Linked DNA regions of Homo sapiens: region 1 is linked to region 2. The links come from fine-mapping of genetic effects on gene expression. A gene starts in region 2. The other region holds a variant in brackets. All regions are shown on one strand. Distances are from middle to middle. Region 1 overlaps COMMD10 (COMM domain containing 10). Region 2 holds the start of SEMA6A-AS1 (SEMA6A antisense RNA 1).

What was found.
Region 1: its variant is fine-mapped to the expression of SEMA6A-AS1 in T cells (TOPMed, PIP 0.95).

The regions. Positions count from the first base shown.
Region 1 is chr5:116,289,841-116,301,219 of GRCh38, reverse strand. It overlaps COMMD10 (COMM domain containing 10), which reads right to left. Exons shown (of 7, transcript NM_016144.4): 6 at 9,644-9,703; 7 at 7,933-8,769. The coding sequence ends at 8,731. Among named protein-coding and RNA genes, the nearest start is that of MIR12130, 40 kb to the right of the region's middle. The variant C/A (reference allele first, on the strand shown) is at 7,730.
Region 2 is chr5:116,444,208-116,455,644 of GRCh38, reverse strand. SEMA6A-AS1 (SEMA6A antisense RNA 1) reads right to left here and starts at 8,147. Exons shown (of 3, transcript NR_109879.1): 1 at 7,854-8,147; 2 at 5,828-6,017. It overlaps SEMA6A (semaphorin 6A), which reads left to right. Exons shown (of 19, transcript NM_020796.5): 19 at 7,834-11,437. The coding sequence ends at 9,032. RefSeq lists a silencer at 862-941.

The DNA.
Region 1 (11,379 bases), 150 kb after region 2:
GCATATCTAGCAAAGGTGGCCACCCCCAGAGTCCTCCAAGCCTGCTGTGTGAGAAATGCCTGCACTGGATAATTTGCAAGTCCAGAAAGCCAATGCATCCAAACTCACTGACTTTCTTTTTACTACTCTAGTTACTTTGTTTGGATGACATAAGGAAAGAACATACTTTGCAGTAAGAACCAAAACTCTGACAAAGAAGGCCTTGAGTTTCAAGGATTCACAGGGCATTCTGCCATAAGGTAGAAAAGTTAGATGTTATAAATATTACTCTATCATAAGAAACTGATCCCTCACATTGGGCTCTACATCTAAAGGCACAGTCTTAGTTGCATAAAATTAAACTAAACTGTTACTGAACAGCTTTCTGTGTGGCTCTGTTTATCTTGCCTGCTTTCTGTACTATCTATGTCAACTTTATCTGATTTTTGTCCAGCTGGTATATTTGTGATAAGTTGGAACAATCTGTGCCATGTAAAGGGAGACTTAAAAAAACTTTGTCAGAATTGTCCCACATCAGTGAGGAAAGCCTGTTTGTAGGCAGTGTGTACAGGAGTGTGTGTGTGTGTGTGTGTGTCTATGTGTGTCTTTAATCAAGATACTCTTTTCAGCAGGAAATTAAAATCTTCTGGGTAATGAGCTCAGAAAATCTATACACACTGAACATATATTTCAGTATAAGAATGTTGTTGATGTCTCTCTGGAGCACTTCATTTTGACCCTATCACATAAAACAACTCTGAAATTGCTAGGAATGTAACTGTTTTCAGTCTTGCAGCATCAGTACCCAGAAGCATGTGTAGGTCAACTTCATGACTATCATAAATCTCTTCACAGCAATGCGAGAACTTGCTCTAGCCTTCTGGAGGGCAGAAATCTGGGTCTCTGGCTGGTTATAAGGCTTTTATTCTCATGTTTATCTCCTGGATGATGAATAAAAGGATCAGTGACCTCAGGAGATACTCCCTAGAAGGGATGTGGCTATTCCCTAATGGAATTACCAAATACCAGCATAGCTGGCTAAACCAGTTTGAAAACTACTTTTGTACAACTTTAAGTTTACAATTATTTTAAGAATTTAGATAGTACTGTGCAAATAAATGGAGAGAGCCCAAGGCAGAAAAAAACTACATACTCTATTAATTCATTCATTCAGTATTTCTAAAGCACCCCAATGTTCGTAGAACTACTTGCAGCAGCATGAAAGAGAGTAAGAAGCTGGACTGCAAAGTAGAACACATGGTCTGGAATACACAAGTCACCTTTTCTCTGATCAGCTGGAAATTACTCTGCTCCTCTGTCAAAGCATAAACACATTCTTGGGATGGAGAGGAATGCTGGAGCTTCCAAGGTTGATGTGTTAAAGCAGCCTTATCCAGGGGACAGCAGCTTTTTCCTTTGTCCCCTTATGTAGTCTGGTTGAAACTGCAGAATAATTTGAAATGTGGACTAAAAATAGTGCACAAAGGAAACTTAGAAATCTCAGAAGGAGAGATGAGGAAAGGCCTTGAGAAATCACTGCACTCCTTGCCTTACAGCAAGTCTATATTTATCATAGATTTAAAAAACTTTATTATTGACTTTCCTTTAAAGTTTTGGGTAGAATGTACAGTGTTTTTAATTTTTATTTGCCAATTAAAAAAATACAAACATAAGTCAGAAAAAAATAAATGCAACTATTAAATTTACTATTAACTGCTTTCCTTTACCTAGATTTTTTGAAGGAAAAATCTTTAAAAATCATTAAAAAATCAGGTTCTCATTAAAAGATGCTAAAAATGACTGAACTCTGGTTTCACTAAAAGAAGATTATTATATATTCATTATTTTTCCTGCCTTGGAGATTGAAACAGTCTCTCTAAGCCTCTAGCACCATCTTCCTTACAGATTTGTTGACTGGACTGGCTTCACCTTTCCTGTCTTTGCAGACTACTTCTTTTGAAATAAAAATCAGTAACTTTCCATTTCAAATAAAACAAAGTAGGCTATGAAAACTGCCATCATTTAGATTTGGATTGTAGGCCTCCATAACAGCTAGTACAACCTTATAGTTCAGAGAAAAGCAAAAGAGCTTCAAAAATACTTCAGGAGTGTGCATATGGCGAGATGGGAGCAATGGTTAAAAATCCTTAAAATTCTCCAAAATTAAAAATGCCATTAAGCTTTACTATAAAATACCTCAAATTAATGTGTTCCTAATTTTAGCATTAAATGAAGCTGGTCTATTGAGTAGGACTATTTGCATAATGATGGCAAAAAAAAAATCAAAGTTTTAGGGAAGCAAAATTGATCAGAAATTTAAATTATAATTCCTGAGTAGCTTCTGACTAATGCATCTGAATAAATCAGAACCATCCCAGTCCTCTTATTCAACAGTAGAAAAAGAATTATGGAAAGACTTTGGGGGAAATTTACAATATACCCTTATGGTTTCTCAAAACATTTGTCTCAAAATAACCACACTGAAGGAGGGAGGTGAATATAGGTTCCCAGTAACACTGAGAATTTAGCCTGAATTCGCAGGCTGCAAGCACAAAGGTTTTGTTCTGTTTTTTAAGGTTTCCCATTTCCTCTTTAACATTTATATGCATTTTGCCATAAAATGTAAATCTCCATTTTAAAATATGTTGTACATTACTGGCCAATTATAATAAAATTATGTTGCCACCATATTAGTTAGGCTACAGGCAAACGTGCTGTGTATAGCCTAAACTGACCCCAAATTTAATAACTCAAACAAGATATTTTATTTCTGTCAAGGGCATGGAGACAGCTGTGTTCTATAAGTATATTCAGGGACCCAGGTTCCTTCCATCTTGTTGCTCCCTACCTCTTAAGCATTAGCATTCTTGTCTGCTCAAAGCTGACTCAGCTCCAAATCTGGGTTTCAATCACAGAAAGAGGAAGACAACTGGAGATGAATGATCACTTCCATTCACAATTCATTAGCAACACTTAGTTCCACGGCTGCAGTAGCTGCAAAAGAGGATAGAAAATGTAATTTCTTCTACTTCTGGCAAAAAGTAGAAGTGATGCTATTGAAATATATACAACGTCCATCTTACGACTTTTTGTGTTCCCTACCAACTACTTTATTTCTCTAGGGATGCTCCGGTTTAGAGAGCATAGTATAAAGCAGGGTTCTGCATCCTTTCTTTCTATAAAGGGCCAGGTTTTAGGCTTTGTGGGCCATATGGTCTCTGCTGCAACTACTCAACCCTGCTGTTGTTCAAAAGCAGCTACAGACCATATGTAAACAATTGAGCATGGCTGTTGTTTTAGTTATCTATTGCAGCGTAACAAATTACTACAAAGTTAGAGGTTTAAAACAACAGAGTTATCATCTCACAATTACCATGGGTAGAGTTCAAGCATAGTTTAGTTGGGTCCTTTGTTTAAAATCTCACAAGGCTGCAATAAGAGTCAGTTGGACTGTGCTCTCATCCAGAAGCTTAACAGGGAAAAAAACAAAACAAAGCCAAACAAAAAAACGACAAGAAAACCCATTTCCAGGCTAATTCAAGGTTGTTCGCAGAATTTATTTCATAGAGGCTATAAGGCTAAGGGCCTCAATTTCTTGCTGGCTGTTCTCCCTCAGCCCCTAGAGGTCACCCTCAGTTCCTTGTCATGTAGCCCTATCCGCAGCCTCTCTTATAACATGGTATTATTTCTTCAAAGCAAGGAAGGGAGAAAGTCTCAAGAGTGAGTTTGGTAGCAAGACAACTGTGTTCCAATAAAACTTTATTTACAAAGACAAGTGGTGGGTCATGTCCATCATTTGCTGATCCTTGGTATAATGAATAAAGTGTAGAAGACATTATTTACGGTAAGAAGAAATCAAAGTTCACTGAGTAGAGAAAAAGATTTCTCAGAGCCAGAAGAGCCACGTGGAAAGGTACTCAGAAGAAAGTATTTTTTTCATTCTGGTCCCATAATACATGTATTACCTCATTTTTTAAATAAAAAATAAAAGCAGAATTGGCATTGTGTTAGAATCTGTGATTATAAAATGGAGTTGTTATTAGAATGCCAAATAAGTTTAAAGTGAAGGGGCTTCATAGCAAGCTTTCTACAATTTTGACTCTAATTCAAACTTCACCTGGAAAAATTTCAACAGAGAGTCTGCTTATTTTCTTAATGATTATAAAAATGTCAGCTAATGCTTATTATATGATTGAGATTCAAGGATTATGCTAAATGTTTAACATGAATTTCACTTAATCTTCAAAACACTCATGTTAGTTAGATTATTATTCCTATTACAAAGATAAGTAAAGTGAACTTTCACAAATTAACTTGCTCAACACACACACACAAAGTAGAAGAACAAGGATATAACCTTTGCACTGTCCTGAGAAACCAGATCGTTAAATTTTACTTAATGTGTAATAGGATCCTTTGAAGGGTTTTAGGCAGGGAGATGGTATAATTAATAGGTTATTTTTTAAAAATTAGCTCTGTACAACGACTGGACTGGAGGAGGGCTAGAATGGAAGAAAGGTGGTCCAGGGCAAAGTTGATGGCAGCTTGGACAGGGTAGTGCCCTGGAGATACACTTGCAATACATTTTGGTGGTAAAAACGACAAAACTTGTAAGAGAATGGCTCCCTGTCTACCTAATTGTAGTGCACTCCACTATGCCATCTGTTCACTACACTCTAGCCACACTGACCTTTTGGTTCCTGAAATGCGCTAAGCCTTTCCCATCCTCTGAGATTTTGCATGGGCCATTCTCTCTAGAATGCCTGTCACTCTATTCTACTATTGTGCCATCTTAACTCATCATATTGGACTCAGCTCAAATCTCACTCCTCAGAGAATCCTTCCTTGATGCCCCAGTCCAAGTTTGGTTCCATCATTAATTTTCTCTGAATAGAATCCAATTATATTTTGTCCCATATTTGTTCATTTATTCCATATTTGTTTACTTTTCACTAACACATTACATTTCAAGAGGCCAAGAACTAGTTTTGCCTATCACTGTAAACATGGTACCTAGCATACACAGTTCCTGCCACCATATTCACCATACTCAGCAGTGATTACTTGTTGAATAAATAAATGCCTGACTTCGAAGCCCTTACACTTGAATACTGAGTTATTGGCTCTCATATTTGATTTTTAAAGAGATTTCCTTTTCAATCCTTCTATAGTTATCAAAGTGACATATCTCAATATGTCCCATCACTCTTCCTAAACAAACACTGACCTCAGGTTATAAAAAATGTTGAGGGTGAAATGTATAGAAGGAAGAAGGGGCTGCTGAAGGTGGCTTGAGGCAAGTGAGTTCTCATTCATTGTTTGTGGGAGTACAAATTAATATAATCCTTTGGAGAAACAATTTAGCAATATATATCAAAGGCCTTGAAATAAATATAAATGTATTTTTGAAAATACACAAGAGGTGTGTATATTTGTATTATAAGATGTCTGGTTTTTTGTGTGTTGAGATGGGGTTTTGCTCTGTTGCCCATGCTAAAGGGCAGTGGCATGATCACAGCTCACTACAGCCTCAACTGCCTGGGCTCAAGCAGTTCTCCCACCTCAGCCTCCCAAGTAGCTGGGACCACAGGTGTGTGCCACCACACCTGGCTAATTTATTATTATTATTATTTTTTTTTTTTTTTTTTTTTTTTTTTGTAGAGACAGGACTCACTATGTTGACCATGGTGGTCTCAATCTCCCGGGCTCCAGCAATCTGCCCACCTCAGCCTCCCAAAGTGCTAGGATTACAGACATGAGCTACTGCACCCACCAAATGTCTGCAGTATTAGGTAGGTACTTCCAGGAAGTGAGATGGCAAAATGGTGCAACTTTGTTTTAATGGGCAGCTATATATATATGTATGAGAAAAGGTCTCATTCTGTCACCTAGGCTGAAGTGCAGTGGGATGATAGAATGACTCGCAGCCTCAACCTCCTGGGCTCAGGTGATCCTCCCACCTCAGCCTCCTGAGTAGCTGAGACTATAGGCATGCACCACCAAGCCTGGATAATTTTTGTATTTTTTTATAGAAATAAGGCTTTGCCATGTCGCGTGGGCTGTTCTCAAACTCCTGGGTTCAGGTGATCCTCCTGCCTCAGCCTCCCAAAGTGTTGGGATTACAGGCATAAGCCACCACACCTGGCCTTGTTTTTTTATAATGAAAATCCGATTAAAGATGAAAATAGAAAATAAATCTTCATACTTTTGACATAGCAACTCTACTTCTAGGAATCTATACTAATAATATCACGAGAGATGTGGTCTAGGGTTTATGTATAATTATATTTATCAGTGAGTTCCCTACGTTCAAAAATTTGAATAATCTAAATGTGCCAAAATTTGGACAATTTAATTATTTTGAGAAATATAAAGTATATAAAGTATAGATCATTCAAATGATGAACTATTTAATATACATTAAAATTATGTTTGGGCAATAAAGATATGAAAAATGTTCATGCTGTAAGGGTACATAAAGCAAAGTATGAAACAGAATTTATGGCATTACTTCAATTTGTTAGGAAAGAAGAAAAAATGAACAAGAAAGATAAATGGATACAAAAAAACTGCAATAAATCTATCAAACTGTCATTAATGGCCATTTTTGGATGATAGGATTCTGTAAGTTTAGATTAGTTATTTATGATTTTTTGGTATTTCCCAAATAAAAATAATCATGATAATTTATAATTAGGGAAGAATTACAAATATAATTTGTAATAGATACAAAAATTAGTTCCTCTTTCTAACAAGCAATTCTGTCTATTCAATCCTCATGTCACACACTCGTGAAAGACATACAGTAACTTTATTTACCAAGATTGCAGTTCCAAGCCCCATTAATCTCATTTATCTTATTTTTATAAAAAAGTAACATGCATTTAATACTCTTTGGAAATGCCACATGTTCTTTGACTTGTGCATCATAACAACAGTAATGTCTTAAGAAAGAAAGTTATCTTCAACTAAATATTTCAGAAATAATTATCTTCTTAGTTGGCATTAGATCTTCTACTTGCCCTTTCTTTACTGTCTCTGAGTCAGATTTTGTTGAACTAGACTAATGGAAAGAAGACTATTTGCCATATTTTTGCATAGGTTTAGAGATATTCTTAAGATAAATATAAAGCTAATTCTTTTAGGGAGCATACAACGAACTACTTTCAGAAAACTTCATTTCTAACCATCATATTTAACTTGTATACCTACATTAAGAATTCAGTTTTGCCACTAAACCAACGAAAACTTCTATTTATCTATATGGCTACTGTCAGGAAGGCCTATCAAATTTAACTTGGGATGATGTATATTTACATGTACATGAGAAAAAGTCTCAAAGAATGTTTACCAAAATGTTTATAGTACCTCTAGGACTTCAGGTATTTACTTTTGAGAACTGGCAAAACAGAGCGTAAAAAAGTAGGAGAGATCCTACAAGCCACATTATATTGCAAACATGCCTTCCAGATATTCTACCAATGAAAGTTTGAGTTTAAAAACTTTCAATCAACTATGGAAAACTGTAATAGTTGTATTCTGAAATAATCCAAACTCTCAATTCTTCTAAGCAACAGCTTACAAATAGATATACAAACAAATGTGGGTATAAATTCCATATACTGAATATTTGAGAGATACTTAACAGTTGTATTTCCCAGATGCTTCAAATAAGAAATGTGCTTCAATTTCAATGGCTTTGCTTATTTAAATATAGGACATTTCTGAAATCAAATTTCTTCATGTGAAG[C/A]AAGTCATGTTTGAATCTCTCTCTTTTTGGAAACAATACAGAAATTTCATTCATAAAAAATTCAAGTTTTTTTTAAACAAATGTATGTAAATGTATTCATTACATACATTTTAACAAATGTACGTAAATGTATTCATTTACATACATTCATGGCATAAAATATACTATAATGTATATAATTAAAAAATGTACACTTCAACCAATCCTAAGACACAAAAATTTTATTGACAGAAATCAACGTATTTATGGAAAGAGAATATAAAAGGTATCTGATTCGAATAATGGTGCCCATTTAGCACTCATTACAATTATTTTATTCAAGACCTGATTCTGTCTCCCAAACTATAAAGTGAATCATTATTAATTTGCAGTATAAAGAAAAACACACAAAAACCTGGACTATTATTAAATCATTAAACTGAGAGAGAAACTGAAGTTGACAGAGAAGCTCAGACTGGAATTAACTGATACCATACTACTCACTATTTTACATTTCCTTCCTATATTATTTCCGAAGCAAAATATACTCATCATATTCAAATAAAAATGCCATAGTGTATTTGATTGTATATGGCTATTTTCTTAATTTTATTCATGTAATTACCAAAGCTCTGTATTCTACTAAGGTACACATCTTATCTTGTATCCATGGACGCTCCTTGATACATTATGGTATCATCCAGCAAGTAAAAACTAAGCAGGACAGGCAAGAAAGCAACACTATGACAGTAAAAACAATATGGTATTCACTTTTGTTTCCTTTAAAGGGAAAGTGTTCTTAATAATTACTGTTGGCTCACAGAACTAAAGAAAGTATATTAGAACCTCAGTATTCTTAACAATGATCTCTATTGGTTGTTATTTGTCTAAGAAGTGATAAGCCATATAATTTACAGAAAGCAAGTCACTGAATCCTTCAGAAAACACAACCTGGCAATGTATCTTCAATGCAAAATAATGAGGTGGCAGGAGCGTGATGAAAAAAACAGTCTTCGAAAACATCATGTAAGGGAATCCAGCTGTGCTTGTATAGTCTCTAGCTATTTACAAAGACAAAAAAAAAAAAAGACGTTAGTGAAGGGAACGAAACTCATATCAAGTGTTATTCAGACACATGCAAATAGAAAGGAAAAAATAGCACTGGTAACTATGAATATTAAATCCATTCACATAGCAATAAAATTACCACTTAGAATATTTTTCTTTTTAGGTGAAGATATTAGAATTTGTGCTTGAAAATTTAAGTTTTCAAATTTTCAAAGAAAGAAGATTTCTTAATACTGTTGTTTTAAGTGTCTTCAGCTGTTTCCTTTTAAATTATCACTCCATAATTTTTTTTTTAATGAGACATGGGGTTTTATTGGAGGCTTACATATGAGGGAGTGGGTACAGTGGTGGTGGGCTGAACAGGATAACCACACGCATGCTCCAGTGGCAGTACACTGGCAGAAGAACTGCCTACTTGATAATATTTTAAAGTTGGGGGGTGGAGGGAGTATATTTTCCTGGATTACAAAATCAGTCTTCAGAAAGAGACATGAAATATACTCACAGATAAATCTCTAAAGGCATGTTTCCCTTTACCCTTGGGCCCAGAAATTAAAGTATTTGACATTATATATATTTAAAGTGTCAGTGTGGCTAGGAATCACAAAGTTCATTACTTAATGTTTTATATTAAAGCAACAATCCTATTGCTTTAATTAAAACTATTTTCCTTTTCTTCCTGATTTAGTTTTTCAAATTCTCTTCATTTCTGCTATACTTCCTCCTGTGAAACATAAGGTCTTTTATAAGGGAAGTTTAAAGAACTTAGTTCCATAATATGACATTTAAAAATAAGAATTCATAAAATGAAACAAAATATTATGAAAAAAACTCCACATATTAGAAAATTATTTTAAAAATACAGACCTTGTTATAGAAATCAAACAACTCCTTGTGACTGAATTCCACAAGAACTTTCTCCAGGCTCTGTAAGGAAGAAAAACAACAAAAAGAATGTAGTTGCACACAATTTACATCACATTTTTTCTCTCCAGCTAACCTCAGAATATGACATAAGATTGTCCTCTGAGTGGTTTTAAAAAATGCTTACCTGCTCTACTCAACCCCATGATTCCTAGAACTCAAAAATGCACTTAATAACACTCTAGCAAAAGGTTTCAATTCTACAGACATCTGTCCTTTAAGTTGACTCTACGAAGGTTAATAAAACATATGCCAGTAAGAGAACAACTTTATTATCTAATTTTTTCAAGACAGAGATAATACATGAGATTATATTTCATCTTTCTCAGCAGTCTGTTTGAAATCTAGTAAATACCATTACACAAAGACACTGGAGGCAGGATATCTGATTGAACTCACCCAGCCATTAATGCCTCACATCAGCACAGCTACTGCCTCCAAGCACTAATCTAGCAGTTGTGATCTCAACATGCTGAGTGTTACCTTCTTCAATGTATAGACTCAGCAAAAGTTCACAATTAACACAACAGTTTCAAAGTCAGGACTTAAACACTCTCTTTCCTTTTACTTCACATGCATTAGAGAATCCTTTATGGGTGCTACAGATGCTAGGTAATATTGTATATGTATGTATGATGCTGTAGTAAAGTATGATATTAAACTAAACCCAACTCAACTCAATCCAACCTACTTTTGGTTGATTCTGTATACTGAGGAAACAATTCAAACAATTTGCTTAAGACTGCTCAAATGTGTTTATTTTACTCAAGGTCCCTCTGAAGAAGTGAAAGTTAATGAGGAGAAAATGCCAAGAATATGCTAACTGCTCTGATCACACTGCTGTAATCACATGACATAAAATGGGCATCATGAACTAAAGAAGTAGAAAACTGATGCAAAATTGAGCCACATGGTCATTTCCAACATACTGTTTATTCTAGTTCGCAGTTTCTATGTTCACTTTTATCTGTTTTAATGATTTCCATTTCTATTTACAAAGCCGACATTTCAAACCAAATTATCTCCAACTAATTCCAGAAGAGTCAATGGGGCTATGTTCAGAAAATGCATCTCACTCTTCATGAAGCTAAGTGTACAGGATCAAATTTCCATACTTCTTCATTTTCTCTCATATATCTAAGTACTTAAGCTTTAAAATGAAAAAAGAAGTACATCTGCTTTAAAGCCTCTTCCTTTAAGAATGATATAAAATCATGAAGTTTTTATACTATATTAGAAAAATTCATTGGCTGTCACACATCATTAAAGCTCCAAAGATTTAATCAGCATCATCTATACATAGTATATGCCCTCCTAGCAGTTAAGGAAGGATGATAAGCCTAGGTTTACCCTAAAGTTCTGAGAAAAGCAAGACAAGTTCATCACTCTCACCTCCATCCAAAAAGATAGGAGAGAATGAAGGCTGAATCAGCACGTAAACAACTGATCTGATGTACCCCTAAAGGTGGCAGTCAAGCCAGGTTCTTGTTTTCTATATTTTGCTTTGCTTTGTTTTAAGGTGGTGTTTCCTAAAATGTTACATTGAGGAAAGAGAAGAAATGTAACTTCGAAAACATACTTCTTAAAAGAACAATAGCTATAGGGGTAGACTAGAAAGCTAGAGGCCCTCTTTCCACCACTAAGGTACCAAGTTAACAATATACGGATCAGAATACCCT
Region 2 (11,437 bases):
AAAGCAAGTAATCAAATAATCCAAGCAAAGACTTGCCCAAATTTCACAATTTTTTAAGGAGGTCCACTTCTCCATTTTGTGGCTTTGATGCCTTTTGAGAGAGTAAAGGAAAAAGATGGGACCAGGAAGTTGGAAAATAGAAATGCTTTGTCTGGTTTTAGAAATCACTTAGATGTTGTGTTTCTCGTCTTATTTAAGAAAGCTGATGAAAGAAAACTTCAAAAAGCAGGAAAATACGCCTTGCAGACTCTGCTAAAACTTTGCCAATGTAAAAGAATCATTACCTTTACGGGGACAGTAACAGTTCTAACACATGAAACCACAAACCAGCATTCCAGGGCATGGCTTTTAAAAATTATCTTATCATGACTCTTAGTCTAGACATCAGCCCGTGCTCTGGCTGTAGCACTCCCATTGGCAATGCCATTTCTAAAGCAGTAGAGCAGTGGAGGAACAGTGAACTGAGCGTTCCCAGCACACAGGGAAAAATGAAGCTGTTTCTTCTCTAAAAAAATGAAATAGAATGAATTCCAGGCTCATTCTCCCTTCTATCCCTGTGATGACATCCCAACCAAAAATGCATCACTTTTAAAGGTGATCGAAGTGGAAGTGGGTTCATCTACAGTCAACCACTCCAAGCATTATTTCAATATGTGAGTTTTAAAATAGCTTCTGAATTCAGGACATTAAACAGCCAGGCCAGGAAGCTACCTCCACTTTGGCATGGTCAGTCATTAACTTTATATATCTTGAAGACCATGGCCCCTCCTGGTACCTAATCTGTAGCCTGCCAGGAAAAACACATACATACACACACACGCGCACACACACATGCACACACACACACACACACACTTAAAGGAAAAGGAAACTTTAAGTTATAAACTCCAAGCCTATTTCCATGGCTGCTGGCATGTCAGTTTATTCCTAAGCCATCTGGTTCACATTATGCCGTAAGACAAGAAGAAGGCTGCTTCCTGCCCAGATAACCACAGAGAGTTCCCATTTCACTTTCAGCGTGGTCACCTCGACTGGCTGGGGTGTGGCTTTGAGAATAAATTGTCTCCAGTTAGGGTTTTTCCCTTGTTTGTTTTCTTCTCTTCTTAATAGGGATTACAGCGGGCCCTGTGTGGTTAGCGGGGCGATGCTTGGCTAGTGATTAGTTCATTCATTTATACTGTCTTGCAGGACCGTGAGCCTGGAATTTTGTTGCAGTAAGATTTGCAAACAAGAAAAATTGGGCTGTTAGATTCCATTCACTCAAGTTGTTATGAGGATTTCAAGGAAATTGTAGGCTTGTCTTACTATAAAGCAGAATCAAGAATCTATTTTTAGGGGATGCTACTCCGGGGCTTTTCTTGGTGTTTTGCCATCTTTCTTAGCTCTCAGACCCAACACAAACCCTCTCTGGCTCAGTGATGGAGGAAATGTCCATCCTCCTTTTTGCCTTTGCATATTTCTCTAAAGGACACAGAGAGGCTTTGTTGTCTTTGTGGTCACCGGGTCCACTTTACACAGATGCCTATTAATCACTTCACTATGGAGACAGACACATCCATCATATCACAGCAGCTCAGAAACGGGCCGTCCAGTGAAAGGGGGTGAGAGGGGAAAGTGCACACTTAACCATTTCGAGTTAGGTTACTGGTTGCCTGTGTCTTACACGCTTAGGGTGGTAATTGGGGTGGGGGTGAGTAGAGCTCTTCCTTTGTATTTAGCTTAATAGGTGTGATTAATTTTACGTATTTTTGCTTGTCTGTTTGCTTCACATTTTGATAGGACAGATAACATCTCCCAGCTATTTGTGTAAGGTGCAGGGCATTAGTATACTTTAAGATTGAGAGTTTTAATTTTAAAAACAGTAATAATAAATGCAGGTAGACTAGCTGTGCTTTTGATGCAATGATACTGACTCTTTGAAGCCAAGAGTTTTGCGATAATGGATTCAATGTGGAACAGAGCAAGCCGAAAGTTAGCTTTCTCAGGCAAGAGAAACTGCAGATAAATTAACCAAGAACTTTCCTTCTATGAGTGGCAGATCTTCTAAACCTCTTTTTTAATCATTCAAGGCTGTCCACAGCCTTCCAAATGGTATTTCTAGCTCTTGCTCTTGTATTTTCTCTACAAGTGCTCATTCATGTATGCATTCCTTTACTATTTATTTAAAAGATATTTACTGAGCACCTTTCTGCCTGAAGATTCAGTGGTGAGTTTTAGCAGTCTAGGTGAGAAAAACAAGTATCATACTAGTGATGATTTTAGAATAAAGGGAATGCAGAGCTCTGGGGACACTTTAGAAGGAAGAACTTAACTGGCCTAAGGAGTCAGAGAAGGCTTCCCCATTTAAGCTGAGCCCTAAAGATAGGGTCTGATGAGTGGGAAAATGAGTAGGGACATTCCAGGCAGAGAGAACAGCCTGTATGAGAGCCATGAAGCAAGCTTGAGTATGGAAGGGTGGCTCATGCCTCCAGCCTAACAGACTAGAAGGGAGTTAGACCATTTGCTATTACTCACTACGGCCTTCCCTTTCCTTCCCTCCAAGGCTCAGTTCTTGTTGCTCTCTCTGCTCCAGCTAAGATCCTGTGCATCTTTAAGGCTTAGCTCAAATGCCATTTCCAATGTAAAGCTTTTGCCCACTGTTGAAGCAGAAGTGATGTAACTCATGACATAGCCACACTTTGGACAGAGTTGTATGCAAGCACTTGCCTTCTTCCCTGCTGGTTTATGCCTCATTCATCATTGTCCTTCCCCGACACCTAGTGCAGTGCTTGGTAAATGTTTGCTGAAGGCAGCCACAAAGATGCTTGGAGCCAAAACCTTGTTATACTAGGAGAGTGATAATAAAGAAACAACCCAACCCTAAGTTAGGGGAAAACATCATTTCTAAAGCAAATTGTCTCAGAGCCTGGTGCTAGGTTCCCTTTGCACGGAATAGTATCCATGAGCAGGACTACTAGAAAACATTTTTTAAAATAAGGAATGTAGTGTTTGATATTTCAAAATTTATTAACATGGTCATCATAGGAAAAGTCAGAATTGTATTGGGCTTCCTCTTAGTTTTCAGTTTACAATTGTTCTTATTTTGAATCACATGTTGCAGGGTCTAGGGGCAGGGTCCTTCATAATCTTTTCATTGCTTTGGACTCTAAAGAACTTCAAATTTCCTCTCTGAGGTCTCCCTCCAGCATCTGAAAACTCTCACCTCAGGAAAAAAAAAAAAAAACAGTGGAGATTCTATTCTTTCTCAGTTCTGCCAATTTAAGACATGATTTCAGAGAAATCTCTAAGCCAGGGTGTGCCTTGCTTCCTGCAATAGGAAGGTGGAAAGACTAACCATTTAGCACCTTATGACTGGTGAGAAATAGCTGGTGGTTAATGAATCAATGCAAAGGATTTTTCAAATACTGTTTTCATTACTAATGCCCCATTTTCAATTGGTAAGAGCAGAAGAGGATGCAGGGGTTGGCAGAGGAAGGAATTTCAAGACCCTAGGGTAGAGAAGCCAACTCTGATTGTTCTCTCTGCAGTGGGAGGATACCTGCGGAGGGGAGTACACCACCCTCCAAGGGCCCTTTACTTGCCCAGGGCTTCCAGGCAGCATCTGAAGCAAGGGATACTCAGCTCTAGCCTGTTGCCCTTTGCCCTTTGCCCTTTGCAGAGATGCATTTTTTTTTTTTCTAATTATTCAGTTCCACTGGGGCACTCTGTTGTTGTAAATAACCCATTTATCGTCATCGACTCTTTTGGATTTTTCCCAGAACTAATTTCATTTTTGAAATAGTTTCTCTTCTTATTGTTTTGAGCAAATACTGAGCACCATTATAGATTTATTTTTGTTTGTCTGATAGATGCTACTATTAAAATTCTTTTATATGATTGGAGATAGAATTTATTTCCATGACTTCAAAAGCAAGGGTGATAGTCACTCTAAAGATTACCTCCCAAGTTTAGAAGTTCATTTAAAAATAGCTCTACAATGTATTGAAAACCCATTTATTCAGCCATCATTTGTTGAGTTACCCAACTAAGAGCTCTGTGGATGGCAAGGGTTATAAATGCCGAAAAAATGTGGTACTTGCCCAGGATTTGCACTCCACTGAGAATCCAACTATAATTGCCAACATTTTCCACTTCTGTTGTTTTAATTATTTCAAAATTCAGTAACTATAGGCATCCTGAAACAGTATGCATTCCCTTATATTGCTTCGAAATCTCATATCACCTTTTTGACTACATTTAGAAGGCACGAAGTTTGGACCTGGAAGCACAGGTCTACTCCTCTCCCATGGGAGACCAATAGCAAATGGAATCCAATGGAGCAGCTGCGACTATCACTTGGAAGCCCTCTGTGAGCCACTAACCCACCACTTCTCCTTTGTGGCTTCTTTTGAGCTTTAGATTTGTCCAGCAAACTACAGCATTTAAGCTCTTTCCTATTTTTTATTTCCTTTGATTCTTGTAACAATCCAGTAAGGCAGTAAGATTAGGTGTGTTCACCTCATGCTACAGATAAAAAAACTGAGGCCCAGAGATGTTAAGTCACTTGCCAAAAGGTCACCCAGCCAGTAAGTGGGAGCCTGCAATTCCAAGCCCACTGAGATCTTCTCTAGCTGCTTTTATCACCACTACTGACAAGTCTGCTGTTTCCAAGCCTTCACAATGGCTATTCCACAAAGTTGACTTGATCATTTCTGTGAATGCTTCTTTGGCCTTTTTCATGATATAAGCAGAAAGCTTTAAGTTTGAAAGGCATTTCCAAAAATAACGTTTACCTTATCTTCTTCAACTGCACTTTCAACTTACTCTCTGATCTGTTTCCATCTTTGGACGTTTCTGAATTTACACAAGCAGATGAGGAAAGCCCTCTGCCTCCCCATGGATAGATGAAGACATGCAAAAATGTTTTTAAGGCCACTCTTTATATAACAAAATGAGACGGGGGAAAAAATCTGTCTGAGATACCATTTTCCTGAAAGGTCAGATCCTACTTAACTTGTTAACAACCAAAAACCTGAACTCAAATATCATCCACTAAAAAAGAGTTCTTCCCAGTGAAAGAATAAGTAGCTTTCATGAGTCTAAAATAGCCAAGGACCTTCAGACATGAAAGAAGAATGATATTTGGGAGCTAAAAGTAAGGCTAAGAAGCAATGGATACATGTGAAAAATTTGCAGTTTTCCCAGTGAAACCAATGAATTGCTCTAGCTTTACTCTTTCCACGTTCCTTTTAAACTGAGAGGGCAGTTTAAATTGTAGAATGCCAAAGTCAATTGTAAATAGCTTCCTATTATAATACACATTTATTGGGAATATCCAGTCCCCCTAAATTTGGTAGCCTGGAAGGGTTTCATGAAATACTCATTGCCATGAAAAAAACACCTAATACACCCCCACCCCATTACTGGGGCCGTCTAGCCTGTGTTCAACTCCCACTGAAATCACCAAGTCAATGAGAGAAATTAAAACCATTTTATCCACAGGTGTACATTTTTGTGCAATTATATGTAGGGGGTTAAAAACGGTGTTCGGTAGAACCCCATACATAATCAAAATTGAAGAAAAATCAGTAGCTATTTTAGCATAATAAGGAAATGCAAATTTAAGAAAGAAAATTTTCATTAGCACATTTCCTTGGTGAATAGGTACTAAAATATATTTGAATGCAGGACACCCCACTGTTTGGGGAGCTTCACACATAAAAGGTGTGAGTTACAGCCAAATTTCCGGCTGTTTTTTGCTTCTCAGTTTCTACCCCTTAAAAGCTGATGGAGATAAATCTGGAAATATTTGAAAAGTATCACATTTGAAAATTATTTGATATCTTACCGTCTTGTACACTCTTTCCTTATGGTGAATTGCCTTGACTGCCTTTTATTACCAAGGGTATTTGTTGGATCACAGAATCTTTATTTCTTAAGAGATATTTGCTGCTTCTACTTAAGTCACAATCCTTTGTCACAGGACAATCATTTCCACAGCAACCAACTGTGATGTCACAATTGAAGGGAGGAGGACCCTTAGGAAGGAAAGAAAAAGAGAATGTACTTTTCAGGCTAAGGTTTCTGGGTTTTAAAACCATCACTTCAGAAATCAAAATATTTTAGCAGAAAAACCCCCATGAGAAAGCTTCAAGGTCTCGGCTGTGACAAAGACAACATTTCAGTAGAAGTTTAAGGTTGCGTGTTGTGGGCTTGGGAAGGGGTAGAGATCTTTATTTCCTTTCATTCTAATTCTGTGCCACTGATACCTGCCAGTAAAATACATGAAACATATTCCAGAAAGAGTTGATTTAGTAGATGAAAAATGCGTCTCCCGAGACCAGAGAAGGTACCTTTTCTGTCTTGCTATCATTTCCATAATAGGAACAATGTTTACATTTCCTCAGCCCATGCAGTGCCTCTAATGTATTCATGTTCTTTCACTCTCCAGAGGCAGGAATTGAGGTATTAGAGATTTTATTTTTTAGCGACTGCATCAAGCACTTAAGATCTGACAACTGTGATGTGTATTCTCACTTGGTATTAAAAAATAAAAGCTTCTGTGTTTGCATTTGATTAGAGTCACTCAGCTGGGTGGCTGATTAAGCAGGAATAGCGAAAGCACCTTCCTTCAGAAACACTGAATCCTGGTTAATGTAGTGTAAGATTACGGATGGGTGTAGTCACATAATTTTTATTAAATTGAAGAGATTAGCTCTGCTGAAAAATCCCACTGTGACAGCAAACTCTAGGTGCAATAATGGTACCTAACACTTCTCAAACCCACTACAGGGCCCCAAATGGTCTTATTTCTGAATCTTCTTTCAGTTCCAGTGAGAAAGCTTCATTCAAATATTCAGGATAGTTACCTGAAATTGAGTTTGCACTGTTTTTTTTTTTTTTTTTTTTTGAGAGGTGATGCAAAATCAGCACAAACATTTGTAGTCTGTGAACTTTAGCTATATTCTCTCAGTGTAAATAAAAATGACACACACTCTCTTTCCTCTAGTTGCTTAAAAGGCAAACACTTTTCCCCAGACGGAGGCTCCGGTGGCCACAAGGGGGCCGTCGGAAAAGATCCCAACTGGAAGCCCAGAGTGTGTGATTTGTTTGTCTAACATGCATAAAATTGTTGCCTCTTCCTCCAGACTCAGGATAACTTGGTTATCCCAGTTCTAGGAAGGGAAGGTTAAAAAGCCATAAAGAAGGAAAGAAAGATAACTTTTGAAAGCCAAAACCTCCCATATTCCCTGGAGTGAAGCAGAGTAGAAAGTGCAGGTACTGGAAAGAGTGAACAGCACTTTTCTTTCTTTCTTTTTTTGAAACGGAGTCTCGCTCTGTCACCCAGGCTGGAGTACAGTGGCCTGATCTCCCTTCACTGCAACCTCCACCTCCCAGGTTCAAACAATTCTCTACCTCAGCCTCCGGAGTACCTAGGATCACAAGCCCCCGCCACCGCGCCTGGCTAATTTTTTTTTTTTTTTTTTTTTTTTTTAGTAGAGACGGGGGTTTCACCATCTTGGCCAGGCTGGTCTTCAACTCCTGACCTCGTGATCCACCCGCCTCGGCCTCCCAAAGTGCTGGGATTACAGGCGTGAGTCACCGTGCCCGGCCTGAACAGCACTTTTTTAGACAACAAAGAAGGCTACAAATGGAGTCCATTTACATACTGCACACGAGGGGCTTGGGGAGGATTAATTGGTTAATGTTTGGCAAGCTGAGCTTGGAAGACAAGTTGTGCAGAGGTGCTGTTGTCACTTACTACTGTTATTAATTAACAAGGTGAATGCCAAGCAAAAACAAGCCTCGGGGTGTGCTTTCATTTCTTAACGCCATATGCGATGTCTATTGCAGGAGTGATTCGGGAAAGTTACCTCAAAGGCCACGACCAGCTGGTTCCCGTCACCCTCTTGGCCATTGCAGTCATCCTGGCTTTCGTCATGGGGGCCGTCTTCTCGGGCATCACCGTCTACTGCGTCTGTGATCATCGGCGCAAAGACGTGGCTGTGGTGCAGCGCAAGGAGAAGGAGCTCACCCACTCGCGCCGGGGCTCCATGAGCAGCGTCACCAAGCTCAGCGGCCTCTTTGGGGACACTCAATCCAAAGACCCAAAGCCGGAGGCCATCCTCACGCCACTCATGCACAACGGCAAGCTCGCCACTCCCGGCAACACGGCCAAGATGCTCATTAAAGCAGACCAGCACCACCTGGACCTGACGGCCCTCCCCACCCCAGAGTCAACCCCAACGCTGCAGCAGAAGCGGAAGCCCAGCCGCGGCAGCCGCGAGTGGGAGAGGAACCAGAACCTCATCAATGCCTGCACAAAGGACATGCCCCCCATGGGCTCCCCTGTGATTCCCACGGACCTGCCCCTGCGGGCCTCCCCCAGCCACATCCCCAGCGTGGTGGTCCTGCCCATCACGCAGCAGGGCTACCAGCATGAGTACGTGGACCAGCCCAAAATGAGCGAGGTGGCCCAGATGGCGCTGGAGGACCAGGCCGCCACACTGGAGTATAAGACCATCAAGGAACATCTCAGCAGCAAGAGTCCCAACCATGGGGTGAACCTTGTGGAGAACCTGGACAGCCTGCCCCCCAAAGTTCCACAGCGGGAGGCCTCCCTGGGTCCCCCGGGAGCCTCCCTGTCTCAGACCGGTCTAAGCAAGCGGCTGGAAATGCACCACTCCTCTTCCTACGGGGTTGACTATAAGAGGAGCTACCCCACGAACTCGCTCACGAGAAGCCACCAGGCCACCACTCTCAAAAGAAACAACACTAACTCCTCCAATTCCTCTCACCTCTCCAGAAACCAGAGCTTTGGCAGGGGAGACAACCCGCCGCCCGCCCCGCAGAGGGTGGACTCCATCCAGGTGCACAGCTCCCAGCCATCTGGCCAGGCCGTGACTGTCTCGAGGCAGCCCAGCCTCAACGCCTACAACTCACTGACAAGGTCGGGGCTGAAGCGTACGCCCTCGCTAAAGCCGGACGTACCCCCCAAACCATCCTTTGCTCCCCTTTCCACATCCATGAAGCCCAATGATGCGTGTACATAATCCCAGGGGGAGGGGGTCAGGTGTCGAACCAGCAGGCAAGGCGAGGTGCCCGCTCAGCTCAGCAAGGTTCTCAACTGCCTCGAGTACCCACCAGACCAAGAAGGCCTGCGGCAGAGCCGAGGACGCTGGGTCCTCCTCTCTGGGACACAGGGGTACTCACGAAAACTGGGCCGCGTGGTTTGGTGAAGGTTTGCAACGGCGGGGACTCACCTTCATTCTCTTCCTTCACTTTCCCCCACACCCTACAACAGGTCGGACCCACAAAAGACTTCAGTTATCATCACAAACATGAGCCAAAAGCACATACCTACCCCATCCCCCACCCCCACACACACACACACACACACATGCACACAACACATACACACACACGCACAGAGGTGAACAGAAACTGAAACATTTTGTCCACAACTTCACGGGACGTGGCCAGACTGGGTTTGCGTTCCAACCTGCAAAACACAAATACATTTTTTAAAATCAAGAAAATTTAAAAAGACAAAAAAAAAAGAATTCATTGATAATTCTAACTCAGACTTTAACAATGGCAGAAGTTTACTATGCGCAAATACTGTGAAATGCCCGCCAGTGTTACAGCTTTCTGTTGCAGCAGATAAATGCCATGTTGGGCAACTATGTCATAGATTTCTGCTCCTCCTCTCTTTTAATGAAATAACGTGACCGTTAACGCAAGTAACTCTTTATTTATTGTTCACCCTTTTTTTCCTTAAGGAAAGGACTCTTCCAAATATCATCCTATGAACAGCTCTTCAGAAAGCCCATTGAAAGTTAAACTATTTAACGTGAAATCCATTAACTGGAATAATTGAGTTTCTTTATTTTTACAATAAATTCACTGAGTAAATAAGTTGGAGCTGGAATTCTGAGCTTTGTGTTTGGACTGTCTGGTCTGTAGCTAAAGGAAAAAGTTAGGAGGGGAATATTTATTTAAATCTATCAGTTCATTGCCTGGTCAGGTCTCTGGCCTATAAACATGCAAAAAAACTAATTCATGTTAAAGTCCTTCCAGATCCTAATTTCTAAAGCAATCAGGAGAGAAAGCTTTTAGAATGGCACATCATATCTCATTGATGCCAACATGGTTTTGTCCATGGTTCTGACTTTCTGTGAAGGCACCAGCTTGCAATATGCCATCCCATTTCACCTTGCATGTGAGACAGCAAACAAAATCCACAAATGGTGTGAACTAATATGCTGGCTGCTACCTTGCATAAATTAATGATTTGATCACACGGGTTCTTCGTGGGGTTACATCTGTGAATAGCCTGTTTTCCACATGTAAATTTGTGCCTTACACCTTGAGTTGTGTACACTTGTAAACTCTTTATGATCAACTGTTCCCCCTTTTGAAATAAGTGCAGATATTTATTTAACCCTCCCTTCCCCACCCTCTGCCCCACTTCCAGCCCTCTGAAAGATTGGAGTCAAGCAGATGGAAGAATGCAGTGGTGATAGTTGTCATGCGACAGCCTGAGAACGCTGGGCAGCACCACACCCTCCAATTCACACTGCCTTCTAGTTGTGCCAACTGGAACCACCCTTTGGCTGTGCTGCGAAGCATGGACCCCAGTGTTGTTGTGGGTGTGTCAAATCCCCTTTCATCCTCAAGAGCTCCCTGCTTCCCTTAGATTATTTCAATACGGTGATATCCTTATTTGCTAGCAGAAAAGGGACTAACGTCCCATTCCTCTTTTCTGCTGCGTCCACTGGCTAGAGAGCAGGCGGTGCGCGGTTGGGCAGACACCTGGGAGGAGTCTCCAAGCCATGTGCACAGCACACACGTGCAGTGCACACAAAGAAATGACATGGAAATAGATGCAGGCAGGCTGGTCCCTGCTGTGATTAACGAGTAACTCCAAGTACAAGGCCGACCACAATGGATGCTGCAAAAACGTTGACTGGGGCAAAGGATTTTTTATTTTATTTTTTATTTTGTTAATTATGTTTTTAGGGGATGGGAGGTGGTGTGTGTTTTTCTCCTCTTGGTTTTCATTTGCTCAAGCACACAAAAGGGACTTTTGTTTACTCTATCATGAACAAAGGAACTGTCCACATACTGTAAACCATGAGCAGTGTTGTTGTTGTTTTTTTAAACAGTATATTTGGTGGTCTCTTTGTCTGCTTTTATTTCCAGTTCGATCTTCTGGGTTTAGTTTTGTCTTTAAAAAGAATTCAAAAAAAGACTGACAATGACAGTTTTGAGTTGGATAGTGAAAAAGTGGAGCCTCCATAATCAGTGTGGTTGCCTTCAGACCTGAGTACTTAGCTGAGGGTGGGTGAGAGCCCTTTGTTCCAAAAGTCCATTAGTTTTGCTGTTGTTTAGGAGTAGGTGGTTGTTGTTGTTTTTACTTTTTTTTTTTTTGGCTTTTGTAATGGAATCCATGTTC